Linked DNA regions of Homo sapiens. The protein of the gene in region 4 purifies or fractionates together with the protein of the main gene of each other region. This does not show direct contact. Each region holds a gene or a part of one and is shown on either strand. Other genes may lie near its edges.

Region 1 (3,500 bases), on a different chromosome or scaffold from region 4:
GGTGGGCACGAGGGGTTGTGGTCTGAATGGAGCAGGGGTAAGAGCCCAGCAGGGGAGGAGAGTCAGTAACAGTGAACACAGACAACTCTGGAGGAGATGTGCGTAAACTGAAGCAAGAAATGGAGCCATAAATAGCAGGAAAAGAGGTTTTCTTCTTCTGTTTTGTTTTTTGTTTTTAAGAAACGGGGTCTTGCTATGTTGTCCAGGCTGGCCTCGAACTCCTGTGCTCAAGCCATCCTCCTGGGGTCAGTCTAGTCGTGGCTCTGTAACTAACTGCCCTGGAATATGCAAACGAGGTCTTTTATCATAATCGCAGACCTGGAAGCCAGGTTTTCAGGGATTCATCAGAGTGTGGGGAGCCCTTGGCTCTCCTCCACCAGGGCAAGCCTTGACAGGGATGACTTGAAGAGCTGGGGACAGGCTAGATGTGTCTTCCCCTACCCCCACACCGTCCCTCCACTCTCCCCTGTCCCCAGCATGGCTAGCTTGGTTTTCCTGGCAGCATGGTGGTGTTGGTGTAGTTGAGCTTCTTGCAGGAACTCAGAGCCCTAGGAGGCTAAGGCAGAAGCTGCCAGTCACTTTAAGGGCTAGACCAGGAGGGCACCGTCCCTGCCACCACAGTCTGCCCTAAAGGCAGCCTCCAGCCCAGATTCACCTGGAGAGGGAGGGAGACAGCCACCTTTCATACAGCTGTCTTTTTTTTTTCTTTTTTGAGAGAGAGTCTCCCTCTGTCACCCAGGATAGAGTGCAACAGTGCGATCTCAGCTCACTGCAACCTCTGCCTCCCGGGTTCAAGCAGTTCTCCTGCCTCAACCTCCCGAGTAGCTGGGATTACAGGCGCCTGCCACCACACCCAGCTAATTTTTTGTATTTTTGGTAGAGATGGGGTTTCACCATGTTGGCCAGGCTGGTCTCGAACTCCTGACCTCAAGTGATCCACCCGCCTTGGCCTTCCAAAGTGCTGGGATTACAGGTGTGAGCCACGGAGCCCGGCCAAGACATTCCCAGGTGTTTAGATGAGACATTTGTATTTTTGACAGGAACACCACAGAAGAGGCAAACAGCAGCCCCATCAGCTTTCAGGAGGCGGCGGAGGCCTTTGCCTCATGACTGGATGCTGATGCTTTGATGCTTGGTTGGGTAGTGTTGGCCTGGATTCCCCCACTGTAAGGTTATTTCTTCCTTTTGTAACTAAAAGTATCTTGTAGGGACTTATTTTGAAACCCTGTAAACGTCCTCTTATTCAGATTTTCAAGGTTTTTTTTTCTTTCTTTCTTTCTCTTTTTTTTTTTAGACGGAGTCTCGCTCTATCACCCAGGCTGGAGTGCAGTGGCACAATCTCGGCTCACTGCAAGCTCCACCTCCTGGGTTCAAGCGATTCCCCTGCCTCAGCCTCCTGAGTAGCTGGGACTACAGGCGCCCGACTAATGTTTTTGTATTTTTAGTAGAGACGGGGTTTCACCGTGTTAGCCAGGATGGTCTCGATCGCCTGACCCCGTGATCCGCTTGCCTCAGCCTCCCAAAGTGCTGGGATTACAGGCGTGAGCCACCACGCCCAGCCTTTGGTCGCTATTTCTTTAGCTATTGATTCTGTCCCCTTTCCCCCAACATGCCAGTTAGACCATTTGACTATGTACACATTTTTCTTAAAATCCTTCTGAGTGGTGGCCGGGCGCAGTGGCTCACGCCTGTAATCCCAGCACTTTGGCAGGCCGAGGTGGGTGGATTGCCTGAGCTCAGGAGTTCAAGACCAGCCTGTCCAAGATGGTGAAACCCCGAGTCTACTAAAATACAAAAAAAAAAAAAATTAGGCGTGGTGGTGGGCGCTTGTAGTCCCAGCTACTCGGTAAGCTGAGGCAGGAGAATGGCTTGAACCTGGGAGGCAGAGCTTGCAGTAAGCCAAGATTGTGCCACTGCACTCTAGCCTGGCGACAGAGCAAGACTCCGTCTCAAAAAAAAAAAAAATTCTTCTGAGTGGTTACCCCTGTTTCTTGCATGTACACAGAAGTGCAGTTGATCTCTGTATATTGACCTTATACTTGGCAGAGTGGATCAGGCGTCCTTGGCTGGTCCTGACCAAGAGGGAAAACTTCTTTTTTTGTTTGTTTTTTTGAGACCAAGTCTCTCTCTTGTCCCCCAGGCTGGAGTGCAATGGCATGATCTTGGCTCACTGCAACCTCCGCCTCCCGGATTCAAGCGATTCTCCTGCCTTAGCCTCCTGAGTAGCTGGGACTACAGGCACCTGCCACCACACCCAGCTAATTTTTGTATTTTTAGTAGAGACGGGATTTCACTATGTCACCATGTTGGCTAGACTGGTCTCGAACTCCTTACCTCAGGTGATCCACCCACCTCGGCCTCCCAAAGTGCTGGGATTACAGGCGTGAGCCACTGTGCCCGGCCTCAAAAGGGAAAACTTGTAATGTTTCACTCCCAGCACCACATTGCTGTAGACTTTTTGTAGATACCCTTTATTTGATTAAGGAAGTTGGGCGCGGTGGCTCATGTCTATAATCCTTGCACTTTGGGAGGCCAAGGTGGGTGGATCACCTGAGGTCAGGGGTTCGAGACCATCCTGGCCAACATGGCAAAACCCTATCTATTAAAAATACAAAAATAGCCGGGCATGGTAGCACATGCCTGTAATCCCAGCTACTTGGGAGGCTGAGGCAGGAGAATTGCTTGAACCCAGGAGGCAGAGGTTGCAGGGAGCTGAGATCACACTACTGCCCTCCAGCCTGGGTGACAGAGTGAGACTCTGTCTCAAAATTTAAAAAAATAAATAAATTAGTCAGGTGTGGTGACTCACATGTGGTCCCAGCTACTCAGGAGGCTGAGGTGGGAGGATCACCTAAGCCCAGGAGGTCGAGGCTGCAGTGAAACATGATTGCTCCTCTGCACTCCAACCTGGGAGACAGTGAGGCCCTATGTCAAAAAACAAAGGCCTGGCGTGGTGGCTCATGCCTGTAATCCCAGCGCTTTGAGAGGCCGAGGTGAGTGTATCGCTTGAGGTCAGGGGTTGAAGACCAGCCTGGCCATGGCAAAACCCTGTCTGTACTAAAAATACAAAAATTAGCTGGACGTGGTGGTGGGCGCCTATAATCCCAGCTACTGAGGAGGCTGAGACAGGAGAATCGCTTGAACCTGGAAGGCAGAGGTTGCAGTGAGCCAAAATCACACCATTGCACTCCAGCCTGGGCAACAAAGTGAGACTCCATCTCAAAAAAAAAAAAAAAATTTTCCTCCTATTTTTGCTTTACTAGGAGTTTTTATCACGAATGCCTTTATCAGATGCTTTTTTTGTATCCACTAAAATGACATGATTTTTCTCCTTAATTTTGACAGCATGGTAAGTTTAGCGATGGCTGTTCTTGCGGAAATCTAGTTTTGCGTTCCTGGAATAACTCAACCCAGTTGTGTTACAATACCCCTGCTTGTCACTGGGCTCATCTGCAGGCGTTTTGAGGAGGTTGGTGTCACTTCCTGTCCCACCTGTCTGT
Region 2 (3,500 bases), on a different chromosome or scaffold from region 4:
GTATCCACAAAAATTAAAAATAACTTTAAAAAATTAAATAAAGAACCATGCCTACAGCTCTATAAAAATAATGAACCATTAGAATAAGAGTCCAAGATTTTATAAATAAATAGAACTTAAATATCTGTCCCTTTTTTTAGGACAAAAAGGACAGCGTCCTCTAAATTATTCAACTATTTAGAAAAGAAAAGATTAAAAATAATGTCAAATTGTCATTGATATTCTGATTTTTACCTCTATTAGAGTTCTACCTGTTAGACAACCAAAGAAATGTATTTGACAGCACTTTGCAAAATACATAAAAATGTACAATTTGTCACTGAAGCATTATCATTTACATCGTTATAAAGATGCCAACTATGTTTAAAAGTATTTACCATGCTTTGAAAGCTCTTTCTCCAAATTTTTGGAGACTGGCACACTTGAGTCTCTGTTTGGCAGACGAAGCCTTCCCTTCATCCCGAAGTTCATCGAGCTACAAAAAGGAATAATTTGATGAAAATTAGAAGAAAAATTCTACATGAAACACCCCTCCATAAGCTCAGATGAGACTGTGCCAAATTAAATTTTGAAGGCATAATTTATGCCTAAATTCCCAAGTACTCCCTTTAGCGAATAATGATTTTGCTCTCTAAGAAAAGGAAAGATCATTCGATCATTCTGGTCACAGCGGAATTCCCTATGTAGTTAGAAACCAACTGGAAACATTGCCAGGAAAAAGAGCCTTAAAAGTGGGAGAAAAGTCAGAGAAAGAGTACGCTAATATCCCAGGGGCTGCAATTTTGCTAATTTTTAAATTTTGTGTATAATTCATTTCAGTCTCTCCTCCACCAACATCAGTAAACTCCTCAGAAAAGAAAATAAAGCATTCCATAATATATATTTATGGAATGAATGCATGAACTCAGGCATCTAGATGCAGTAAAATTCTCTACTTTGAATTCCCTCCCTACTAAAAATTATCATGAAAAGATAAACAAGAACTGTGGCCCCTTGCTGTGCAATTTGACAAACAAGTTTCAGTATTTCACTATAGTGATCACCACCATAAAAAGTGGTGAAATCTTTAAACACATGCACAGTGATTACCTCTGACAGATCATCATTGGCAAATCTTAAAAGAAGAAACGAGAGTGTAGGCCTTCAAAGATGAAAGATTTTCAAGACAGATAAAAGGAAGGCTTTTTTGACCATGTCGGAAAGTTTGTATCAGACACTCAGGTTCCCTAAATCTAGCCACAAAATGGACAAAATCAGGTTGGATAATGAACTCTTTTTTTCTATTCTTTTGCATAATACCTTTGGCAACAGGCAGGCAGCTTTATCAGCAGCTTGGCAACATTCTGTAAAAGCAGCTTTATACCTTTTAGCAAAGAAAAGGAGTTCCGGGGCATAAAAGTAAGGATGTCTTCTGGCAATTTCATATAAGTATCTAAATTTTGAAAAAGAAAAACAGTCACTTTTCTATAGCAGACAATATTACAGAAATAATTGTAATCGACATTCTCCCCAGAACCTCCAAATTCCAAAGATATCTAATTAACCAATTAAGCTCAATTTGCACATGATGGTCTTGTCTCTGTCATTCTTTAAGTATGTGGAAAAAAGGGTTAAGTGTGTGTGTGTGTGTGTGTGTGTGCATAAATGGTTAAATTTTGGCAATATAATGTTGCTGACTAAAACGAAATCAATTATAACAACCATATATACATATCTTCGTAATACATTAAATAATTTGTCTATCTTAAATTTTTCAGAAAGATTGTATCCTGTTTCAATAAACTTCAAAATATCTTTGATCATATTTTTTGCTGTGTAGAATTTTGTGGTATCAAATACTACTTCTTTAAAAAATCATCATAACAAAACTTCCAAGTCTTAATGTTGAAAATATTTTTGTTATGGTAATTTTTATAGAGTGTTGGCCTATGGAGTTACTCCATGCTTTTTAATTTTGAACTATAAACATCTGATTACTTACTTTTTCAAAAATGTCTCTTCATTGTCATGAAAAGCAGTGCACATCACATCAACCTCTGGTCTCACCAATCGGGGGAGGTTTGGGTTGTCATCTTTGTGTTGCAAGAAGCATTCATTTCTCTCAGGTTCTTGTTTTGCACAGCAGTCAGCCATTTCACCATAGGTTTCACGAAGAGTTGCAACTGTGCATAATTTGTCTCCAAAAAGGGTATGCTAAATGGAAGAAAGCAGGTTTCAGTTGCTGGACAGTACCTTTTTTCTTTATAGCCAAAGAACAGTACAAAGGATTTAATATACTGGTTAAGCTTGGTCAGGAAATCATTTAAAAATCCGCTTCCCCTCCCAATCGAGGTTTACAGTTTCTGATGATTTAACCATCTCTATATAATTTTCATAAGAATTAACTGTCACACTATAACTCATGGTGAATAAAACAGGACAAAAAGACAGTCAATAGCTTTAAGGAAAGTTATATGACTCCTATTTTGAAACTTAAAACTAAAGGGTAAGAGCAATCATTATAACAGAAATCAAGAGAAAATAAGCTTCTAAGCAGCAGGTGAATTCACCTAGGGGAGAAAAACATTCAGAGAGTTTCTCATTTCATTTGCCCCCTTTTTAGAGGGCCATGTTTTAGTATATGCCATTGAAAACTGAGGAGTAACACAATCCATCATATATTAAGTGACTATTAAGATATAGACATTTTTCTTCCAGAAATGTTACCTAAAATCACTTTCCAATAAATGAGTCCTTTCCTTATCTCTAATTTTTATTATGAAAGTAACTGTAACCCCAGGGAAAATATACTACTCTAGACAGAATTTATTAATTTTTATGTATTTTTAAGATTTCATATGTAGAGCCATAGTATTGTGTAAAGTTAAAGTCCTGACTCTGCTGTGAGGGAGAGGTACATAATAAAAAGGGGAAAGGCTCCAGTGATAAAAACTGGCCTTGCCCACAAGAGGTATATATAGATTGAGTGGTGAGAGAAAGATAAACCTGTCCTTGTTTTGAAGATTGATCTGGAAATACTAAAAGTTTAAAGTTCTTCAACATGACTAAGTACTCTGCTTTTTTATTGTATGTAGAAATACAAAGATATCTAAAATGAGGAATATATAGCTGTACTATTATTCCACCCAGGTAACAAAATTAGCATAGAAATCAGTGGGTGTTTTCTGATGATAAAAACCATGATATCATCTCTAAGAGATAGTAGCTCTCCTGTGTTCATTGCAACACTATTCATGATAGTCAAGATGTAGAAAACCAACCTAAATGTCTATCAATCAACAAATTAATGGATAAAGAAAATGTGGTACACACATGCACTGGAATATTATTCAGCCTTGAAAAGAAGGAAATTCTGCAATAGGCAACAACATGGTTGGACTTTGAATGCACTATGCTAAGGGAAATAAGTCAGTCATAAAAAGATAAACAGTACATAATACCACTTATATAAGGTAGCTAAAGTAGTCAAACTCATAGAATCAAAGAGTATAATGCTGGTT
Region 3 (3,500 bases), on a different chromosome or scaffold from region 4:
CTCTAAACCATACTCCAATGTTCACTGGAACATCTGTCTTTCCTGGGGTATCTTATAGACTCTTTAAGCTTAAGGTCAACATTGAACTCCTTTTCTCTACTCCTGCCACCCCACCAAGCCTGCTACTGCTCCCTACCTTAGATGTTGTCCTCTCTATTCATCCTGTCCCCTTCTCTCCTGTATCTTCCTCACCTTCCATATCCAGTTTGGTCACCAAGTTCTCAAAACATTTCTCAGACATGGCTATTCCTCTCCATTCCCTTTGTTTCTGCCCTAGTTCAGGTCATCATTCTTTGCCTGAACTATGGCAATGGCCTCTTAACCTGTCTCTCCCTGACTCCAGTTCTTCCCCAAATCCAGTCCCTCCTCAAACCAGGTAGTCTCCTAAAAGCTCAACCTCCCCCGTGACACTGATGGCTCTCTGTGGCCTGCAGGATAAAGCCCAAGTCTGGCATTTAAGCCAAGTCCTTCCAACTGGCTCTGACCCAGTGTTCCAGTCTCAACCCCCAGTACTCCTTGCCACCTCTCCCCTGCCAACCCCTACACACGCTCCGTACAGTCTAGCCACGCCAGGGTACACACTGTTCCCTGATCTTGACATGCCTTCCTCTCCCTCACTGCTTTGCAGAATACTCTTTGACCTCCAAAGCCCAGCTCAAATATCATTCCTTTTGTCAAACATCGTCCAGTTCTCTGAGGCAGAATTAATGCTTCCCTGAGCTGACTTCCCATAGAGGTCCTCTGCCCAGGCCTCCGTGATGGTTCTGATCACAGAGAGAGGCACCTGGCCAAGCAGCAGGAGCTCAGGCTTTCCGGTCAAGCAGATCATGCTTCATAGTCCCAGTCCATCACTTACTGGTGGTTTTATTTTGGGGAAAAGACTTACCCACTTGCAGTTTCCATTTGTTTTACTTTTTTTTTTTTTTTGAGATGGAGTCTTGCTCTTGTCGCCTAGGCTGGAGTGCAGTGGCCTAATCTCGGCTCACTGCAACCTCTGCCTCCCGGGTTCAAGTGATTCTCCTGCCTCAGCCTCCCAAGGAGCTGGGATTACAGGCACCTGCCACTACACGTGGCTAATTTTTGTATTTTTTTTTCAGTAGAGACGGGGTTTCACCATGTTGGCCAGGCTGGTCTTGGACTCCTTATCTCAGGTGATCCACCAGCCTTGGACCCCCCCAAAGTGCTGGGATTACAGGCATGAGCCACTGTGCCCAGCCTTGTTTTACTTTTAACAGGGATAATGATGCCTGCCTCGGAGACAGAGTGGTTATGGGGTTCAGAAACCACATACACCCACAGAAACAAGTCTCCTGGTATGATAGTTAAGAAATAGCAGACTGCCTTGGTTCAAGTACCTGCTCTATGACTTACACTAGCTGTGTGGCCTTGGCATGTTACTTTGTGCCTCAGTTTCCCTCTTTGTAAAAAAGGAAAAATACTGGTGCTTATTCACAGGGTTGTTGCGTAGATTAAATGAAATCATAGAGGTTTAGTGCTTAGAATAGTGCCTGATTTATATGTGTCCTCCCTGGCACAGCTCATTGTCCCATCTAGATGTGTCATGTGACACAAATTGTTTACTATGTATCAGGCACTGTGCAAGGTGCTAGAGTTTGCACCTTGCACAGTGTCTGAAACATAGTAAACAGTAAATATTTGTTGAATGAAGAACAAACATAGCACAGAGGAGGGAGTGGTCAGTGAGAAGCAATTGTAGTTGAACAAGAGAACCTTGAGTGGGAGGCATTCTGTGGGGTTATGGGCTGAGCCACTGGGAGCATACAAGAGCCTGCTAATCCCATCCTAAGTTGACAGAGAGGGTGGGCAGTAGTTGGGAAGGGTAGGACAACTAGGTCTTCAAGATAGGAGTGCCAGATTATGCTTCAAATCAGAATGGAAGGGTACACATGCAGATGGGACAAAGAGCTGTGCCAGGGAGGGAGAGGAGGGGCATGGGACACTGGCCTCTCTGAGCAAAAGGGATAAGGGTGAGTGCCCCAAGGCAGGGGTGGGCCTTTCCTTGCAGATGGACAGCTTCTTCTCTGAGTCAGTGGGAAGGAGGCCACCGTGGCCTGGGCCTTTCCAGGGCAGCAGCCACTGCAGCTCCTTGAACTCTGGCATGGGGGAGGCTAGAATGGAGGGGAGGATGGGAGGCCAGTACCTTGATGCCTGCGCTTCGGCACTTGCCCACAGCATCTGGCACAGCAGCCCGGGGAGGGTCAATCATAGACATGAGCCCCACAAAGCAAAGCTTCTCCGTGGGAAAGTTCAGCTCATCCGTGTCGAATTTGAAGCCCCGAGGAAACTTTCCAGATGGCAGATTCAGTTGACAGAATCCTAAAGGGGGGCAGAAGGGATCAGTGAGATCCGCAGAGTGGCTTCCTGGACGCCCCCACAGTCCCCCACCCCAGGGATGCCGCAGAGGCTTGGGAATCCCCTTCTGAGCCTCCTGTTTCTGGCCTCTCACCCAGCACACGCTCCCCAAGTCCCCCCAGCTCCATGTAGGCATTTTGAAAGGCATCTTGCATCTCCTTGTCGAGCGGGATCTCCTTGCCCTGCACCAGGATGGTGGAGCACCGGTCCAGAATGCGCTCTGGGGCCCCCTTCATCACCAGCACGTGGCTCTGGGGGCTGTCTTCTCGCTCGTGGATAGACAGCTGGAGAGACAACAGGTAGTTACAGAGAGGGCCATACTTGTCTTGGTAGCGCGGCATAGAGCAGCAGCTGGTAAGGAAACCACCTTAGAAAAGTAGCCCCAACCCATCAAAGATTGTCAACAAAGAGAATCTCCTTGTGCAGGGGGGTGTTTAGACCTCACAGTTCCAACACTTGTAACCTGAGAGCCACCTCCGTAGGACAGTCTTTCATTCAACAAATATTTATTGAGGTCAGGTTAAGACAGGCACTGTGCTAGGGGCTGAACGGCTCCCTCCTCAGCATCCCCACCACCACCTGGCCTCAGGGGGCTTTACCTCTATGGATAATAAGGAATGCTGAGATTGCATTCTTGGCATTTAACAGGTGCCTAAAGGCTAAGGGGCACCATAAAGGAATTACAGAATTATGGTTTCACTGACTGGGGTAGAAGAGTTGGAAGGCTAGGCCAGAGGATGCGGAGCTATGGGAAGAAGAGTTGAGAGAGTGACAGATTGTAGTAAGGGATGGAGTAAGGTTTGGGAGCTGGGGCTAGTTGCAATCAGACATGCAGTCATATGAGCTGTCCTGGGGGACTTAGCAGGGGGAGGGAACATGACCCTCAGACACCCCCACTCCTGCTAGTGATGATTCCCCTTGGCTTTGTCCACCCTCACCCATTTATATCCCTCTCTCTTCCTCTGTCCTGGCAACCCAAGCAGACCTGGTACTTGTTGGTAGAGTTGAAAGGAATCTCTGCCACCTTGGGGTTTCTGTCTCTCATTTTCCTCACTGAGCCACAGGAGAGCTCAATGCACTTGAGCAGAGCTGACTCAGAGGCATCACCAGCTGTGTCCCGCTGCCAG
Region 4 (3,500 bases):
ATTGACAGCAATGGTGAAATCAAGTTCAGACACAGGATCTCCACATGTTTGAAACAAACATATCAGATAGCAATCTAGGGGGAACAGCACAGATGCAGGAATGCTTACCAATCAACCCTTGTGGTTGGCTGCTATATAGAACAGAGACTATGACCTGGACAGGCACAAGAGAGAGCATTTATTATATGGGAGCATTCAACATAACCCAAATAACATTAGCACTTTTTGTCATGATCTATTTACCCAAATTCATTCATCCCACTGTACTTCTTTTGTGTAACAAGACAGGAAACACAAGGCTTAGGGAGCCTTAGCATGCAAACCCCAAATCTTTGTCCCCAGCTTCCAATGCCTGAATTCATTGACAATTTTTAACAGTGTCACAAAGTGTGAAAATACTATGTTAGAAACCAGCTGAGCTGCCAGACTACTGCCTTAGAGTGAAAATGAGCCCAGTGTCTTTCAGACTCAGAAACTGGAACCTTGTCATACCAGCAATGTCTGCAGAGCAAGGAAATGGACAACAATGTATGGAACAGTAAACATCTGAAGGAGTAATAACCTACATATTACTTTAATTGCTGGCGTATACCTTCAGGAACCCTAGCAAATAAATGTCACAAGTGGAGCAGGCTGGCAGACTACCATTCCCTGACACCTACTTGGTCCTCAGGACCTATCTTTTCCCTCCTTGTATATATAAGGCTGGCTTTCAAATTACCTTCAGACCCATATTCTCATACCTGAAACAAAGGCACCTGAGCAGCACTCCGCACTCCTTAACTCTTGAAGTTTTCTACAATCCAGTCCAGTCCCTCCTGCTGCTGTCTCTTACTGGTTTTCCAAAAAATAGAAATAAAGATCAGAACTTTGGTGTTAAAAAGTCAAAATCAGGTTTATTTGAAATCAGAACAGTCTAAGTTTGTCAATGTCTCTGTAACAGCGGCACCCACAGTGTACATGAGGAACACAATTAAGAAGTAGAAAAATATGCCCCTGTCTAATGAAAGGAACAGGTTGTAGAAACAGAGTCAGTATCATGGAGTCAGCAGTACTTAGGAAGAGTGACTACCACTGTTGGTAGTCCCTATCTCTAGAACTCTAGGAAGGGGTTTCAATGCCATCATTAATGATGCACAGGGGACAGGAGGAGGGGGCTGCCCTTCATAAGACACTAGTCACCTCACACAATGTAAGGACACCCTGAACTTGTCTAGGTGATCTTGACAATTGATTCCAATTCCATCTTTTTCACATTACAGAACCATAGGCTCACTGGTACTGGACTTTTCCATCACAGGTTCTGAAGGAGATGGTGACTGTATGAATCTGCCAAGAGACTTGCCTGTGGATGGACAGCCCAGCACCACTGCAGGAAAATTACATAACTTGGAACTCATTTTGGTGGATGGCTGGGGAACACTTCCTTTTCCACTTATTCAGAGAAACTTCTGAAAATGGTTGGTTGGATCAAGGTACCCAATCATACAGGGTGAAACATAATATAATAGGAACTGCATTAATCTTGTGGTTACAAGATCAGACAAGACTATTGCTTCAGAGGTTTGATTGTCCCTTCAAAATAAACTATAGTTCATCTTGCTTTAATCAAACATTATAGGGGAATTATATATTAAGCTAATAGGCAAGATCTCAACTTCTAGAAAGGGGAGTCTCAAAGATGTCAGTTGATTGTATTCATTACCATGGTGAAAAAGACTCATACAGGATCACAGATAACAAATTTTTGAAATCGGAGGTTTGAGTTGTTCACCAGCTTATACAATAGCATTCTCATGGTGTATTCGTGTAAGTAATTAGTAACACAGTAAGTTAGAAAAACATGGACATCAGAAGGAAGCTAGTATCATTTAGGATAATTTCACGAATAATTGCAACCATTAAATAATGTTGGTGCCATCTGACACTGAGAATAGATCTTCAAAGAAATAATCCACAAAAGTTTACAGTTGCTAATATTGGCTTTTGTGGGTATGCTCTTTGGAAAATATCCCCTCTAGGATTCTATGGGCGAAGTGGACATAAGAAAAGTGCCTTCGGCCTAATACCTGGATCTAAATTCTAAATTCTAGGGTTAAATTATTATTTAAGATCTAGGGCTCTGCTCAAAAAGTCAGGATCTATGAGGCTAGTTAATATCTTAATTCCTGAAATCTTGGCACCTTATATTAGCAAAGGCAGAGGTAACTTTCATTCTTACCAGCAACTGATTTTTCAGGTTTCTAAATTCAATCTAGAAGGATATTTGGAAAACACCAACTTTCTACCAATAAAGGTACTAATAAGTCATTCAGATGCTAGATAATATATATAATTCAAATCCAAATCAAGAATAAACCAGGCTAGGCCAGGCACAGTGGCTCACGCCTGTAATCTCAACACTTGGGAGGTTGAGGCAGGTGAATGTCTTGAGCCCAGGAGTTGGAGACCAGCCTGGGCAACATGGCAAAACCCCATCTCTCAAAAACAAAAAGAAAAACAAAACAAAACAACAACAATGACAACAAACCATGCATTGCGGTGTGCACATCCCAGCTACCAGCTACTTGGGAGGATGAGGTGGGGGGATCACTTGAGCCCAGGAAGGCAGAGGTTGCAGTGAGCTAAGATTACTGCCACTGCACTCCAGCCTGGGTGACAGAGTGAAACCTCTCTCTCTCAAAAAAACAAAAAGTAAAATTAAATAAACATTTTAATCAGTATCCAGAAAAATTACTAGATTAAATCATTCAACAAATATTACTTGAGTGCCTGCTATATATCAGGCACTATTAGAGACACCACGTTTATAGCACGGAAGAAAAAAGTTCTTGCCCCCATGGAGCTTAAAGTCTATTGAGGAGGAAGAAAAATTAGCCAGGCATGGTGGCACATGCCTATAGTCTCAGCTACTCAGGAGGCTGAGGTGGAAGGATTGCTTGAGCCCAGAAGTCAAGGCTGCAGTGAACCACGATGGCACCACTGCACTCTAGCCTAGGCGACAGAGTGAGACTCTGTGTCCAAAAAAGAAAAAAAAATCCTCAACTCTCATAGCATTATTTAACAGATAATGTCAAAAAAGAAATATAAGCCAGGTGCAGTGGCTCACGTCTATAATCTGAGCACTTTGGAAGGCCAAGTGGGGTGGATCACTTAAACCCAGGAGTTGGAGATCAGCCTGGGCAACATGGCAAAATTCCGTCTCTATAAAAAATACAAAAATTAGCCAGGTGGGTTGGCATATGCCTTCAGTCCCAGCTACTCAGGAGGCTGAGGTGGAAGGATCACTTGAGCCCAGGAGGTCGAGGCTGTAGAGTGCCGTGATCACACCACTGCACTCCATCCTGGGTAACAAAGCCAGACCCTGTCTCAAAAAAAAAAAAAAAAAAAAAAAAAAGAGTAAACCAGGCCAAAGACTAATAAGTAAATTCAATCAGCACCATTTAAAAAAATACTTACACTTTATCCTCAAAGCAAAAATCTTGTTTCTCAGTGATTAT

The links.
Region 1: the proteins of USP26 (region 4) and CPSF1 purify together in Homo sapiens (affinity purification with mass spectrometry, with the first as the bait; one large-scale study listed by BioGRID). This does not show direct contact.
Region 2: the proteins of USP26 (region 4) and ALB purify together in Homo sapiens (affinity purification with mass spectrometry, with the first as the bait; one large-scale study listed by BioGRID). This does not show direct contact.
Region 3: the proteins of USP26 (region 4) and ATP1A2 purify together in Homo sapiens (affinity purification with mass spectrometry, with the first as the bait; one large-scale study listed by BioGRID). This does not show direct contact.

The regions. Positions count from the first base shown.
Region 1 is NC_000008.11:144,402,836-144,406,335, reverse strand, and holds part of CPSF1 (cleavage and polyadenylation specificity factor subunit 1), read left to right. Parts: intron 1-502; exon of another isoform or gene 503-506; intron 507-1,040; exon of another isoform or gene 1,041-1,171; intron 1,172-3,345; exon of another isoform or gene 3,346-3,469; intron 3,470-3,500. UniProt on the Homo sapiens protein: Component of the cleavage and polyadenylation specificity factor (CPSF) complex that plays a key role in pre-mRNA 3'-end formation, recognizing the AAUAAA signal sequence and interacting with poly(A) polymerase and other factors to bring about cleavage and poly(A) addition.
Region 2 is NC_000004.12:73,407,287-73,410,786, reverse strand, and holds part of ALB (albumin preproprotein), read right to left. Parts: intron 2,194-3,500; coding exon 1,982-2,193; intron 1,433-1,981; coding exon 1,300-1,432; intron 476-1,299; coding exon 378-475; intron 1-377. UniProt on the Homo sapiens protein: Binds water, Ca(2+), Na(+), K(+), fatty acids, hormones, bilirubin and drugs. Its main function is the regulation of the colloidal osmotic pressure of blood. Major zinc transporter in plasma, typically binds about 80% of all plasma zinc.
Region 3 is NC_000001.11:160,129,259-160,132,758, reverse strand, and holds part of ATP1A2 (sodium/potassium-transporting ATPase subunit alpha-2 precursor), read right to left. Parts: intron 3,494-3,500; coding exon 3,359-3,493; intron 2,658-3,358; coding exon 2,468-2,657; intron 2,338-2,467; coding exon 2,162-2,337; intron 1-2,161. UniProt on the Homo sapiens protein: This is the catalytic component of the active enzyme, which catalyzes the hydrolysis of ATP coupled with the exchange of sodium and potassium ions across the plasma membrane.
Region 4 is NC_000023.11:133,090,610-133,094,109, forward strand, and holds part of USP26 (ubiquitin carboxyl-terminal hydrolase 26), read right to left. Parts: intron 835-3,500; 5' UTR 744-834; intron 155-743; 5' UTR 109-154; intron 1-108. UniProt on the Homo sapiens protein: Deubiquitinase regulating several biological processes through the deubiquitination of components of these processes.